4 linked regions of the Homo sapiens genome follow. The protein of the gene in region 2 purifies or fractionates together with the protein of the main gene of each other region. This does not show direct contact. Each region holds a gene or a part of one and is shown on either strand. Other genes may lie near its edges. The genes, in order: KANSL2, DCLRE1B, FNBP1L and SLC39A10.

The links.
Region 1: the proteins of DCLRE1B (region 2) and KANSL2 purify together in Homo sapiens (affinity purification with mass spectrometry; one large-scale study listed by BioGRID and IntAct). This does not show direct contact.
Region 3: the proteins of DCLRE1B (region 2) and FNBP1L purify together in Homo sapiens (affinity purification with mass spectrometry; one large-scale study listed by BioGRID and IntAct). This does not show direct contact.
Region 4: the proteins of DCLRE1B (region 2) and SLC39A10 purify together in Homo sapiens (affinity purification with mass spectrometry; one large-scale study listed by BioGRID and IntAct). This does not show direct contact.

Annotation. Positions count from the first base shown.
Region 1 is NC_000012.12:48,672,210-48,675,776, forward strand, and holds part of KANSL2 (KAT8 regulatory NSL complex subunit 2), read right to left. Parts: intron 1-3,567. UniProt on the Homo sapiens protein: Non-catalytic component of the NSL histone acetyltransferase complex, a multiprotein complex that mediates histone H4 acetylation at 'Lys-5'- and 'Lys-8' (H4K5ac and H4K8ac) at transcription start sites and promotes transcription initiation.
Region 2 is NC_000001.11:113,911,456-113,914,653, forward strand, and holds the end of DCLRE1B (5' exonuclease Apollo), read left to right. Parts: coding exon 1-736; 3' UTR 737-2,631; downstream 2,632-3,198.
Region 3 is NC_000001.11:93,446,564-93,450,930, forward strand, and holds the start of FNBP1L (formin-binding protein 1-like), read left to right. Parts: upstream 1-1,554; 5' UTR 1,555-1,718; coding exon 1,719-1,742; intron 1,743-4,367. UniProt on the Homo sapiens protein: Required to coordinate membrane tubulation with reorganization of the actin cytoskeleton during endocytosis. May bind to lipids such as phosphatidylinositol 4,5-bisphosphate and phosphatidylserine and promote membrane invagination and the formation of tubules.
Region 4 is NC_000002.12:195,719,726-195,723,292, forward strand, and holds part of SLC39A10 (zinc transporter ZIP10 precursor), read left to right. Parts: intron 1-3,567. UniProt on the Homo sapiens protein: Zinc-influx transporter. When associated with SLC39A6, the heterodimer formed by SLC39A10 and SLC39A6 mediates cellular zinc uptake to trigger cells to undergo epithelial-to-mesenchymal transition (EMT).

The sequences.
Region 1 (3,567 bases), on a different chromosome or scaffold from region 2:
TATTTGCATTATGTTGAAAAGAAAGTGAACATGCGGAACACTTTAAACTTTTATTAATCTACATTCTTAATGTTTTGATATGAAATCATCACTTACCAGTCAAGACAGCTTTAAAGTGTTCAATTAACATGTATCTTTCACATATACATATATACATGTATATATACGTATATATATATACATGTATATATATATATACGTATATATATATATATATATATATATTTTTTTTTTGAGATAAGGTCTCACTCTTGTCACCCAGGATGGAGTGCAGTGGTGCAATCAATCACAGCTCACTATAACCTTTGCTTCCTGGGCTCAAGCGATCCTCCCACGTCAGCCTGCCGAGTAGCTGGGACTACAGGTGTGCACCACCCCACTTGGTTAATTTTTGTATTTTTTGTAGAGATGGGATTTCACCATGTTGTCCAGGCTTGAACCCCTGGGTTTAAGCGATGCTCCCGCCTCAGCCTCACAAAGTGCTGGAATTAAACGCATAAGCTACTGCACCTGGCAATATATTTTAATTAAAGCACTAAAGATACCAACATCAAATAATTTTTTTTTTTGAGACAGTCTTGCTCTGTCACCCAGGCTGGAGTGCAGTGGCACAACCTTGGCTCACTGCAACCTCCGCTTCCCAGGTTCAAGTGATTCTCCTGTCTCAGCCTCCCAAGTAGCTGGCATTACAGGCACCTACCACCACGCCCAGCTAATTTTTATATTTTCAGTAGAGATGGGGTTTCTCCATGTTGGTCAGGCTGGTCTTAACTCCTGACCTCAGATCGATCTTCCAGCCTCGGCCTCCCAAAGTGGTGGGATTACAGGCATGAGCCACTGTGCCCAGCCAAAATTTGTAATTGTTTAAAAAATATAGGCCTATATTGGAGCTCATATGGACCCTCAAATAACTAGTCAAAATGGGCTATACCCTGTCCTCAGCTAATTTTCTTGACAATATTCTCAAAATTCAGTACCCTAGGTTAACCCTTAATTGCCAAAGATCTGGCACGGATCCATATCAACTTGATTAAGCTTTGCTGCCAATTATAAACTAAAAGAATATCTGGCCAGGCACGGTGGCTCACACCTGTAATCCTAGCACCTTGGGAGGCCAAGGCAGGCGAATCACCTGAGGTCAGGTGTTCAAGACCAGCCTGGCCAACATGGCGAAACCCCGTCTCTACTGAAAATACGAAAATCAACCAGGTATGGTGGTGGGCGCCTATAATCCCAGCTACTCGGGAGGCTGGGGCAGGAGAATTGCTTGAACCCGGGAGGCAGAGGTTGCAGTGAGCTGAGATCGTGCCACTGCATTCCAGCCTGGGTGACAGAGCAAGACTCCATCTCAAAAAAAGAAAAAAAAAAAAAAAGAACTTCTAAAAGTTTTGCTAGTGATTAATATATGGTAGACTGTTCTCTGGCTCTGATTTATGCAATCAAAATTAAGAGATGAGGCCAGGTGTGATAGCTCACGCCTGTAATCCCAGCACTTTGGGAGGCCGAGGCAGGCAGATTGCTTGAGCCTGGGAGTTCAAGACCAGCCTGGGCTGTAACATGATAAAACCCTGTCAATACAAAAAATACAAAAGTTAGCTGGGCACGGTGGTGTATACCTGTAGTCCCAGATACTCAGGAGACTGAGGTGAAAGGATCACTTCAGCCTGGGAGTGGGAGGCTGCAGTGAGCTGAGATGGCGCCACTGCACTCCAACCTGGGTGACAGAGCAAGACCATGTCTCAAAAATAAATAAATAAATAAATAAATAAGTGAATAACTTTGAATTTTAAAAATTTTGTTTCACTCACCGTCTGATCATTACATAAATACAAAGAACAAGCTATATACCTTAAGTTTCATACTGAGTAAAAATTTTATTGAAAAGGCAAAACACATAAATTATACTAATTTTAAGTCAAAAAATTATGCTTTATTACTTTTTCGTTTTTAAGACAGAGTCTTGCTCTGTTTCCCAGGCTGCACTGAAGTGGCACAATGTTGGCTCACTGCAACCTCCGCCTCCCGGGTTCAAGCAATTCTCGTGCCTCAGCCTCCACAGTAGTTGAGATTGCAGGCGTGTGCCACCACACCTGGCTAATTTTTTTATTTTTTGTATTTTTAGTAGAGATGGGGTTTCACCATGTTTCCCAGGCTGGTCTCAAACTCCTGAGTTCAGGCATTCCACCCGACTCGGCCTCCCAAAGTGCTAGGATTACAGGCGTGAGCCACTGTGGCCAGCCTCTGCTTTATTTTTAAAAACTAGCTGTTAAGGCACTGAAATACACAGAATATACAAAATTAACTTTAGGACTGAGAGCAAGTAATTTCTGCCAAAATTTCTTCATAAATATAAACAAAAGCCAATATTACCTGTGTATAAGAGGTACTTAACTATATTCTGAAGTAAAAGTGAAAAGAAATTAAGAAAAATCAAAACATGGTTAATAAAACCAGCAAAGGGCCAGGTGTGGTGCACAAGGCCAAGGTGGGTGGATCACTTGAGGTCAGGAGTTCGAGACCAGCCTGGCCAACATGGCAAAACAGCCTCTCTACTAAAAATACAAAAATTAGCCAGGTATGGTGGCAAGCACCTATAATCCCAGCTACTCGGGAGGCTGAGGCAGGAGAATCACTTGAACCTGGTAGGCAGAGATTACAGTGAGCCGAGATCGCACCACCGCGCTCCAGCCTGGGCGACAGAACGAGACTCTGTCTCCAAAAATAAAAAATTAAATAAAATAAACAAATTAAATAAATAAATAAAAATAATATATAATAAAATAAAATTAATAAAAAATAAATTTAAAAATAAATAAAATAAAATAAAACCAGCAAATTACAGAAATGACAAAAGCTAACAGACTATCAGAAAATGTGAAAAGGCTTTAAAAATATGTAACAGTTGGCTGGGCACGGTGGCTCAAGCCTGTAATTCTAGCACTTTGGGAGACCGAGGTGGGCATACTGCCTGAGCTCTGGAGTTTGAGACCAGCCTGGGCAACATGGTGAAACCCCATCTCTACTAAAATACAAAAAAAAGAAAGAAATTAGCCGGGCACAGCGGCGTGCGCCTGTAGTCCCAGCTACTAGGGAGGCTGAGGCAGAAGAATTGCTTGAACCCAGGAGGCAAAGGTTGCAGTGAGCTGAGATCGTGCCACTGCGCTCCAGCCTGGCAACAGAGTGAGAGTCCGTCTCAAAAATAAATACATAACGGTTTCACAAGGTGACTAAGTTACATCTTCAGAAAAATGGGTTATGCCTACATTAACCTGTCTGTAACCTAAAATACTGAGGCCTTAACCTAATATAGAGTTTGTTAAAATGAAATTCACTTTTTGAATACTGAAAATGAGAAAAATAAAAATTGTTTTAAAAAATTAATTTCACTGCACCCTGTCAGAAGAGAATTTAACCAATGGTCTGGAACTGAAATGTACCTATCTGAAGCCATTACTATTAGAAGTTATTAGAAATCATTTGGTGGGGGCAGTAAGCAACCTACTAAATGAATGCCGGCTGGTTCATGTAACAGATGGCTCATTTACTTAAAGATGAATGCGCCAGACT
Region 2 (3,198 bases):
ACTGAAGCCTTGCCAGGTGGTGCCCATTGTAAGTCGGCGGCCCTGTGGAGGCTTTCAGGACAGTCTGAGCCCCAGGATCTCCGTGCCCCTGATTCCGGACTCTGTACAGCAATACATGAGTTCTTCCTCTAGAAAACCAAGCCTTCTCTGGCTGTTAGAAAGGAGGCTAAAGAGGCCGAGAACCCAAGGTGTTGTGTTTGAATCCCCTGAGGAAAGTGCTGATCAATCTCAAGCTGACAGAGACTCAAAGAAGGCCAAGAAAGAGAAACTTTCTCCCTGGCCTGCGGACCTTGAAAAGCAGCCTTCCCACCATCCTTTGCGGATCAAGAAGCAGTTGTTCCCAGATCTCTATAGCAAAGAATGGAACAAGGCAGTGCCTTTCTGTGAGTCTCAAAAGAGGGTGACTATGTTGACGGCCCCACTGGGATTTTCAGTGCACTTAAGGTCTACAGATGAGGAGTTTATTTCTCAAAAAACCAGGGAGGAAATTGGTTTAGGGTCCCCCTTGGTACCCATGGGAGATGATGATGGAGGTCCAGAAGCCACAGGGAATCAGAGTGCCTGGATGGGCCATGGTTCTCCCCTGTCCCACAGCAGCAAGGGCACCCCTCTTCTAGCTACTGAATTCAGGGGTCTAGCACTCAAATATCTTCTGACTCCAGTGAACTTTTTCCAGGCAGGGTATTCTTCCAGGAGATTTGACCAGCAAGTGGAAAAATACCATAAACCCTGCTGAAGACAGGAGAGTACAGAATGACAACATTGAGCCCACACTGCAGTTTTGAAGATAGTAACTGATGGCTGGTGGGAAAGAGTTTGTTTTTGGGGCCTACTTTTCTATCTTTACAAGACTCTTATGGGCCCACCGTGGAGCAGCACTTCCCAAAACTTGTTCACTGGGGTCCTCGTGCCTATGGAATCCTTCTTTTTATAACTAAGTTTAAGAAATACTTTTTTTATAAAATCTTTGGAGTATGCGTGAGCAAATTAAAAGTTCTTTGAAGTCCTACAGTAACTTAATCTGTTTAACCTTGTTTAACCCAGTATTTCTCAAACTTTTGTGAACATGCAATCATCTTATGTGGGTACAGAAAGAGGTAAAGAGTCTGAATCAAAAAGGACCAGGTTATTGCTGTTGCTGTTTTGTGGTGTCATGAGCCATTCTCCATGTCCCCTTCTCCCTCTTCTCAGATCAAAATCCCTAGGGAGTTCTATTTTTAAAATTATGAACTATGGCGCTGCATGCTTCAATCCTGAACGTCACTGACTTGCTGTGACCATCCAAATAATTTTCCTGTCTCTGCCTCTGGGAGGGAACAGGAAGCGATGAAGAGGTCTTGGAACAGTAGTGAAAATTCTACCTCTATGTCCTTCATGAGGATGTGCAGTATCCCAGTATCACTGGGATCCATGTGGAACAGAGCCAGCTGGGGGGTTGGGCAGCTCTCTCCAAGGCAGTACCTAGAGCCCAGCTGAACAACAAGGCTTTGGGTGTGAAGGGACTCCCCAGCCTGGAGACCCTATTTGGCTGAAACAGTTACAAAATATCAAATGTGTTGTCAGATATTCCTCCAATTGTTCACATAGCTGGGATATTTGTTGCTCCCCTCACCCCTTGGATTATGTAGGGAGCCAGTGCACACAGCCTGTTTGTTTTAGTATCCAAGGAAGAGACCAAGGAGCCAGCTGGCGGGAAGGGGTGGGGGTGTGCAGTCTGCCCTGTCCTTCTGCTCATAACCTGACAAAATGCCAAACTAGTAAGCAGGATAGCTGATACCACGGCTATGAGGGAGTAGGCTCTGAGAGGGCACAGACTTGTGGAGCTGGGCGTCTGGATCAAAACTGCTTTGGGATGGAACCTCGAGCCCTAGCAGTGAAGAAGATTCCATTTCTTGTCCAGGGGATTTAAAAGAGTTTTCTGCTTTGAGAGAGAAATAGAGAGTTTAGAAAGCAATTGCTCTTGGGAAAGCTATACACAGCTCTGTTTTGTCAATGACCTTTGTTGTAAGTCTCCCAACGTCCTATTAGGAGCCACAGCAGGTGAGGCATTTGGTGCAGCAGGAAACATGGGGACTGCCTAGGCTCGAATCTGTGGCACCCTGAGCAATTACTTAAATTGTGGAGCCTAGTTCCTCATCTGTAAGATGGACTTGAGATTCCTACCTCTCATGATTACTATGGAGATTGAATAATTGGTAAAATTCTCCTAGCTCAGTGACTGCCACAGGATGGGTCTTTCAGATTTTGGTTCTCTTTAGCTTCTGGTTCTTGAAAGAAATTAATCTGTATATAACATAAGAAACTTTGAAAGTCAAAAAAACAAAAAATTTTAATTCCTCGTAGATTAATTGATTTGCTATCTTTTAGTTTTTTTTTCTATGCATGTAGATGTATTAAATATGTAAATGTTTTTCAAAGTTGAGGTAATATTGTATAGAATTTTATAGCCTACATTTTAATTTCTTGATATCTTAAGCATTTCACTTATTAGATATTGTTCAAAAATGCCATTTTTAATATTTGTATAATACCCTATCATGTGAGTATACCTTAACTAAGCCATTCCCATATTCAACATTTTGTGTACTGTTTTTCTAATTACATATATTACAATGAACAACCTTATGCATATATTTTGCATTTTTATTTCCTTAAAGTAAATTACTGGAGTTAGATTATAGTTTTAAGTTCTTGATACCAATTGTGCTGAATTGCCCTCCAGAAAGGTTTCCTGACCATCTTTTCTGCAGACAGGATAGCATTAAAATACCTTGAAGACTCATTAGTTTAAATGAGATCACAAGAACGGTACATGTTAACACATGGAAAATCATCTCATGTGTTAACTTAATAAATAGCTACTAAACTGTGTGGGCAAATTTAGCTGGACTTCCTCTAGCATCCTCTAGCTGTCTGACTTCTAGGCGGCCGAAGGTGGCTGGGAGAGATAAGGTAGTTCTCAGTACAGGGGTTCCCATATTGGCGTTATCTTCTAGCAACAAGGGAGCCCGTCTACTCTTGGCACATGCTGTGTCACACCTGTTCCTTCAAGTGGGTTCTATATGCATTCAGATAGGGGAGGGGAAGCAAAAGACTTTGAGGAATTTAGTTGTTGGTAGCATGTTTGCATTTGTTTGTTTGGCTTTTTTTTGGAGACAGGTTTTAGCTCTGTCACTCAGGCTGGAGTGCAGTGGCACA
Region 3 (4,367 bases), about 20 Mb from region 2:
GCAATTGCAAAATACATTCATGATTCTAGGGAGTGATAGGAAGTGATGGGAGAGGCGGTTAACAGTGTTAGGTGACATAAATAAACGAAGAAATTATTTTGGAATAGAGGCAATGTAGAAAAATGTTAGAAAGTGTTGTTCAATCCTTCACAGGCTTTTCACTGCATGGTACAAAGTTAAGCATTTAAAAATTGGCTATAACCCACTTGGAAGAGGGCATTTGTATGCTTAAAGTGGCCTCAGAAAAGGACAGCAGAGAATTTAGGAAGATTAGCAACTGGACTGTCAGGCGAACTCAGGCTGTTGGCCTCAACTCCAAGAGGGAGCGCAGCTAGGCAAAAGAATACGGATTAAGCGGAAGAGGTTGGAACACCTGTCCAGGCCAGGTAGGGGAGGAGTTTCAATGCTGACAAAGAACCCGTTGGGAGAGCTTCCTAAAACACCCAGCTGTCATGACGCACTGAGGAGTACTCTACTAGTTGACTGTTTTGAAGTGTGTGTGTGTGCGCTTGCTTGCTTTAGGAGACAAGCTATTAATACTAAAGCATATGTTAGGGAGTTGCTCAGCGTACTTGATATCTAGTAGCACCAGCCAAACTAGCTAACAGCCTTTCCATGGAGATAGGCCAGGAAGTAGCTCCATAGAGAAAAAAGGAAGTAGTGGACCTGCCTCCAAGGTTCCGATACTGGGAGGTGAAAGAGATCTGAAGTTCCGAATAAGCTGTTTACACTACCAGAGAAAAATCTGGCTCCCATCCAACCCTCACCCACGAGGTGCCCATTCCAGACATGGGGCAAGCTGCCTTCTCATCTTCCGCAGGTGACAGCTCGGCTCACATTTGTCCACGTCTTCCATCTCGTGCGCTGGCAACATACCTAAATGATTACTGGAAGAGCTGCCTCTTTTTATAATTTCCTGACAGAATTTATAAAATTAAAATATTTAATTAAAGACAGAATCGGGGACATGTTGCCTTCACATTTGCTGTTCAACCTGTGCACATTTTGGTGGTTCCCAAGAATCGTCATGCCAAAGCATCAGGCTTGAAAGGAGAGATCACCTTAAGCATCAAGATTTAAAAAAATAAAACACAACTCTCCTCAGTCTAAACTCTAGGATTTGGATGACGCTTCCCTGTCAAGGTTTCTCCCGAGTGGAGGAGACAAGAGGCAGGAAAGGCAGGTAACTAAAATTGCCTCATGTAAAGGGGCTCAGCGCAGAGGAGGAATGAGATAATAGCGGCGGTGGGGGTCTTTTCCCTTCTCTCCCTTTCTATCTTGGAAACAGGGGTCCGACTGGCAGCGGAGTGGGGGCAGTCCAAGCTCCGGGGTACCTGCAGGAGGAGACTCGACCAGCGAGAGGGGCCAGCGAGGGTGACCAGGTGCCCGCTTGGGGACCCCGCCGGCGGTGGCCAGGCTAGCCCAGGTCCTCCCCGATCCCAGGATGCACTGCGCCCCGCCCCCTCCCCGCGCCGCGTTCCGCCTCCCCTCGGCCCCGGCCCCCTCCCGCCCAGCGCGGGGAGGCGGGGACGCGTCGGCGGCGGAGGCTTCTCCAGTCGCGTCTTTCTCACTCACTGGGGAGCCCGGCGGTGGCGGCACCTTTCGAGGTAGACCCGCTGAGCTGCTAGCCCGCCGGCCAGCGAGTGAGAGGTCGGACAGACTGTGGAGCCGACAGACTGAAGGACAGCGGCACCGCCAGACGGCCAGAAAGTTCCGCCATGAGCTGGGGCACGGAGCTGTGGGTGAGTCGGGGAGAGGGGCGCCCCGCACGGACCCCGGCCCCTGAGAAGCGCGGGTTGGGCGGGCGCCGCGGACCCTCGGCGGTGAAAGCGCGCTCCGCCGTCCTCGGTCCGGCGCTGGCGGAGGGTGAGGGTCCCGCTCGTCTTTGTGTGCAGACTCCTCTTCCCTTCTCGGCCGGGGGTCTAGGGGGCCGCTAGTCCGTGCTCCCGCCTTTGCCGCCGTGGTGCAGCTCGGGCGGCGCCCGGGACGGCCGGGGGAGCAGCCCGCGGGCTCCTGCGTGCGCCGTGATCCCCTCTTGTTCCTTCTCCCTCCTCCACCTTCACTTTTCCCGACGCCTGGCTTCGCGCCCGGCGGCTCCTCTCTTCCTTTGTATCTCTCCTCCCGGAGGCGGGGGAGGGGGCCCATTGTCCCCAAGGGGCGCTGTTCGAGGGCGGGGAGGGGACCGGCCGCGATTCCTCGCCCGGGCCAGGTCCGCGGGGCTAGGGCGTCGCCCGTCTGGGGCGGCGCCGCCCAGAGCCCTCGCCCCAGGTATGGGGACCCAGGCGGCTTTGTTCGGAGCCCGGCCTCGGGCCAGCCAGGCCCAGCCCACACGCACATTTCTCTCTCCCTGCCTCAGTGCTTCGGGCGGGCACAGCTTCGAGGGACTCCGGTTTGGCCACCCCCGGCTGCAGCCTTTGGGCTGGTGGGTTGGTTTTGGGGGCTGAATTAAATCGAGTGATCGATGAGGAAGCTAATTTTACCAAAAGGAGCGTACGGTCTCCCTGTTGCTTTACTTCCCTTTCCGTTCTTTATTCTCACTTGTTCTTTCTCCTTCGTTCTCTCCTTTCCTTTCCTCCTTGCCTTTCTTTGGCACAGGAGGCTCCAGACAATGCCCAGTGTCTGGCCAAGGTACGGGCGGAGGGTAATAGGTCGGAGAATTTGCTCCTGGCGCCGGCGCGGAAGGGTCGAGGTGTGGAGGGCAGTGATTTCTCAGGTGCGGAGGGCAGTGATTTCTCAGGTGCGGCCGGGAGAACTGGGGGCGTGGGGGCGCTGTCCCGAGAGCCGCCTGGCCTCAGCCACTCCCCTTTTTATTCCACCTGTGCCTGTTTTCCGTGCCTTTTGTTCGCGAGGATCTCGTGAAATCACTGCAGAGAAAGGGGAGAAATAACTTTTGAGTATGTGTGTGCCCAGCTAGGGTGGGAGTGAAAGCCAATGGGTTAATTGAAAGGCAAAATGTTTTCTTATTTTTCACGTCTACTCATAGATTGGGAATCTTAGAACTGTGAGACTTTAGAGTCCATCTAGTGAATGCTTTACTTAGCCAGCCAGGAATCTCTTGTGCAACATTCTGTACAAGTGCTTACCCAGTCTGAAAACACACCACCCAAGAGAAAATACCTTAGGAGCCCCTTCATTCCGTTTCTTAGATAGCATTAATTGTTCTTATATTGGGGAGGATTGCATGGTAAATGAATTACATAAAGTTTAATTCTTTTACATTGGTTAGTTTCTCAGGCATTATTGGCCTTTTTCCCTTACACTTTGTGCATTCTATAATTGATTATAGTGAATTATCAATGAAAGGAAATGGGTATAGTTTTATTTTAAATTTTTAAATTTTTTATTTTTTTCATGCCTACCAGAGTGCATTCATTCGTTTTTATAATTACAAAATATTTTAACTTTTGCCTACTTAAATGACTTGTGCTTCAAAGGAAACTAAAATGTAAGTAGAATACTTCTAAAAAGTAAACATAGGAAAACAGTGGAGGCATGTTATTTAGATTTAACTCTTAAGATTTTTAAAAAATTCACTTTGTATCACACTAAAGAATAACAGTTTTAAGGAAAAACATTTTAGTGAATAATAAAATGTGATTTTAAAAGTTTTTTTTTTAAACTTATGGTACTACCTAAGGAAACGATTCCATTCCTCTACTGTCTCCTATAATTTGGTTACTTTCAGCATTTAAAGAGTTTCTCAGCAATCTGAAAAGATAAACTGTAGAAGAGATGGGAATTTTTGTTCTAACTAAAATTTGCTTTGTGTCCTTTGGAAATTCTGAAAAAGATTTTTAATTTTTCTCAACATTTAATACATCTCCATATTTTAAGATTTTTAGTTTGAGGATTTGAGGGAAACATTTATTAGAAACTAAGTAATGTAGAGTGAACTAATATCAACTTGGTGTCTGAAACTTAGATAAGCAGAACTTGGTGTAGAGGACTATTGTTGGGACTAGAAGAAACCTTAGAAAAATTTGAGTATGCTTCCTCTTTTTACTGTTCTCAGTTTTGAAAAAGGATTATACTTCTAATGGATTGTAATGTAATACAAACAACCTGTACTGTGCTCTTGCCATTGAGGAATTTGAGGTTGGGAAATTCTCTCGAAATTTTGGATTTAGAAACCAGTTCTCCTATTATTTCATATTTAGAATCACATTACTGTCCCAAAGAGTTAATTATTGAGAATATGTTGTTACAGAAAAATGATATGTAGCCATGCACTTAAACCTGAGTCTGTTTCTTGTAACAATCATTGGAATTTTTATTGCTATTTTAATGCTTCTTAAGTCTTATGTTAAATTTGAGAAAAAAAGGAATTCAATAGAACGGCTCTAATACTGACTTTGGGGGACTTTTGT
Region 4 (3,567 bases), on a different chromosome or scaffold from region 2:
TCATGCCTCAAGCCTCCCAAGTAGCTGGGACTACAGGCATGGGCCACTACGCCTGGCTAATTTTTGTTTTTTTTTTTTTTTCGAGACAGAGTTTTGCTCTTGTTGCCCAGGATGGAGTACAATGGTGTGATCTCGGCTCACCTCAACCTCCGCCTCCCGGGTTCAAGTAATTCTCCTGCCTCAGCCTCCTGAGTAGCTGCGATTACAGGCTTGTGCCACCACGCCTGGCTAATTTTGTAGTTTTAGTAGAGACGGGGTTTCTCCATGTTGGTCAGGCTGGTCTCGAACTCCTGACCTCAGGTGATCTGCCTGCCTCGGCCTCCCAAAGTCCTGGGATTACAGGCATGAGCCACTGCGCCCGGCCATAATTTTTGTATTTTTAGTAGAGACAGGGTTTCACCATGTTGGCCAGGCTGGTTTTGAACTCCTGACCTCAAGTGATCTGCCTGCCTCGGCCTCCCAAAGTGCCGAGATTACAGGTGTGAGCCACTGCACCTGGCCTTAACTTTTTCTTTTTTACCAAGGTAATGGATGTAAACCATTTCTTTTTTATTTTAGTTGGTATTTATTGGTTTACCAATTTAGTTTCTCTCCACATGCAATACTACTTTGGTTTTCTTCTTTTATAAATTAAAAAACAGTAGCTTAAGATGTAAATACTCATTCACATGGAAAATATCTGAGGGAAATGGAGATGGCATTAATTTGAAAGAAAAAATGCTAATGCCACCTTTCGAATATGCAAGGGATTTCTTCATGTGTTTTCTAATTTAATTTTTCTGAAAACTCACCTGGCTATGAAATGTCTGTCATTTGACTGTGCGTAATTGTCTTGATTTGTAGTATTTGCTCATTTTGAATAGAACTTATCATATAAATTTCTTGAAAAATCAATAACTTCTTACATAAAGCAGTAAAAATATATTAGTGCATACTTGGTGCTAATTCCTTGGGGCTTGATTCTGTATGGTTTCATTTACCTTGCCAACTTCAGACACATAATCTTATCTCTTGTTCATGCCCATTATCCTTTATCCAGACCAAGTCATCACCGCCTTTGTGGTGTTTTTGCTTAGACAGTTTTCATAGTCTTTATATCTCTGGTTTTATTCTGTTGTAGTATATCATTGCCAGATATATCTGCTTAAATGTGATGTTCTTATGTAATTAAAGTCTTCCAGTAGCTTTCCTGACATATAAAATAGAGCTGGATTTTATATATTTTTTTCCCCCTGTAACAGGGTCTCCCTCTGTTGCCCAGGCTGGAGTGCAGTGGCTTGATCACGGCTTAGTGCAGCCTTGACCTCCTGGGTTCAAATGATCCTTCTACCTCAGCCTCCTGAGTAGCTGGGACTACAGGCGTGCACCACCATGCCCAGCTAATTTTTGTATTTTTGATAGATAGGGTGTTGTCATGTTGCCCAAGCTGGTCTTGAACTCCTGGGCTCAAGTGATCCACCTCCCTCAACCTCCTAAAGTGCTGGGATTACAGGTGTGAGCCACCACGCCCAGCTATGAGTCACACTTTCAATGACCTTCACTTCTTCTCTCTACCTAGCTTTTTAGTGTTACCTGCAGTACATCCTGTTACATGTTTTTCATTTCAACTAAATGCAATTCACCAAATGTGTAGTGTGGGTGCCTGAATCTGTTTCCTTGTTTATACCATTCTCCTACATGGCTGGCCCAAATACTTCTATTCCTAGTTTATCATGTTAAGAATCTTCAACTTTATTACTGTCTTTTACCTCATGCCTTGGATTACTGTTTCCTCTTAGTTTTATTGTTTGCTTTCTCGGGGTCCTTCACCCATTTTCTTGTTAGATGCCGTATTTCTTAAACTGTAGTTTTTTAATGCACAGATACGACGTCTTATGCTCTTCTCTAACTATCACATACTGCTGTTGGTCTATCACATACTGCTGTTAGCCTAACTCCACAAATCAAGGCTATCAGTTTTTATATATGAGTTAACATGTTGCCTCATATTTAATCTTTCACTTAAAAACTATTTTTAGTAATAGACTTGGATAATCACGCATACACCTCCATAATATACTAGAAAAACCTCCAACTTTCCTTCCTGTTCATCTACCCACTACCTGGTAAATGGAGTGTCAGGCTACTTCAAGTTTAAGTGTGGTTTTACTGAATTGCCATAACCTTGAAGGATTCACTCAGACACAGAATTGAAAACAAGTTGGAGATTAAGGATGGTTACCTTCTTACCACCCTTTTTCTGTCTGCAATTTCTCATTGAAGGAGTGACACACAAGGGCTGATAACCACATGTAGAACAAATGCATTACATACATTAATAGCTAGGGAAGCCCTTGATACCCAATGCAGAGCTCTGGTAAAAAACTGGAGCGGAGAACTCTGCTTGGACCAGGAACCCCTAGTGAGACATTCAGACCTCAGATGTCTACCTGTTTTATCCCACAAATCAGAGGCTGAGATGTTGCTACTGCTATGAGAAGATATGTCAAGCCAGAGTATACTGAATTTTGCTAGAGGGAAAGGAGTGGGCTTTTAGAAAATGTGCATTTTTCCTAATGTTAAATTGATGTAAACTATACCATACTGTAGCTGGATAGGCTACTAGGGAAGAAACAGTGTAAAGAAATGACCCAGCTTCCTCTTCTGGAGGTGACAGAAAGGGCTCTGGTCCTTGTATCTATCAACAAGTTAGGAAGTGGTCTAGGGACCATAAATAAAGGAAGTAAAAATATGATTGTGGAGCCTAGTTTTTGCCTTAAGGCACAGCAAAGGGCACTTTTTGTACAATAGGACCAGGTCAGTGTCCCTACTCTGATCAGATCATCTATTCTTACTCGGAGAGGAACAGGATGTGGAGAAAGGCATACAAGCTTCTTCCTCAGAACTCCCAAGCACAGGGAAAATCATTCCTCTATAGGTTGAGTTAGAAGCATGGGCAGATAGAGCCAGGGAGAAGTCCACTTCCCACTTTCTAGGTTAAGATGTTGACAAAGTAGTATAGTATGTCACATTTCAGGATAATTTATTTGATCTAAAACCTATTTTGCCCTGTTACATTTTTCATTATGAATTCTTAAAACAATTCTGAGATTTCCATACTGACCTCAGACCCTTGGAGGAAAAACATGTTTTCCAATTACATTGCAATACATGGAGACTGACCCTCAGTTGGTAATTCCAAGTTCTAGTGTTCCCTTTCTGAACAGATTGCTGTTTTTCCCGTGGTATATTCACTGAGACACAGAATTGAAAACAAGTTGTTTTAGAGATTAATGATGGTTACCTTCTTAGCACTTACCCCTTTTTCTCTCTGCAGTTTCTGCAGGTGTTTTTTGTAGTTGTGTTTAGGAATGTGATACGTAAAGACATATCCTTAGAACCATAGAATAACATATAGTTCAGGGAATTTGACTGTAAGAGACATGAAGAAATTGAAAGCATTTGAGGAAATAGCAAACTCACATCTCATTTTGTGTTTGCTCTCTGGTGTGGTAATGGGTTAAATTGCCTGAATTACTAAGTCACTACTCTCTTTTCTGTGTTTGCCGAACTTATGTAGCTGAATTT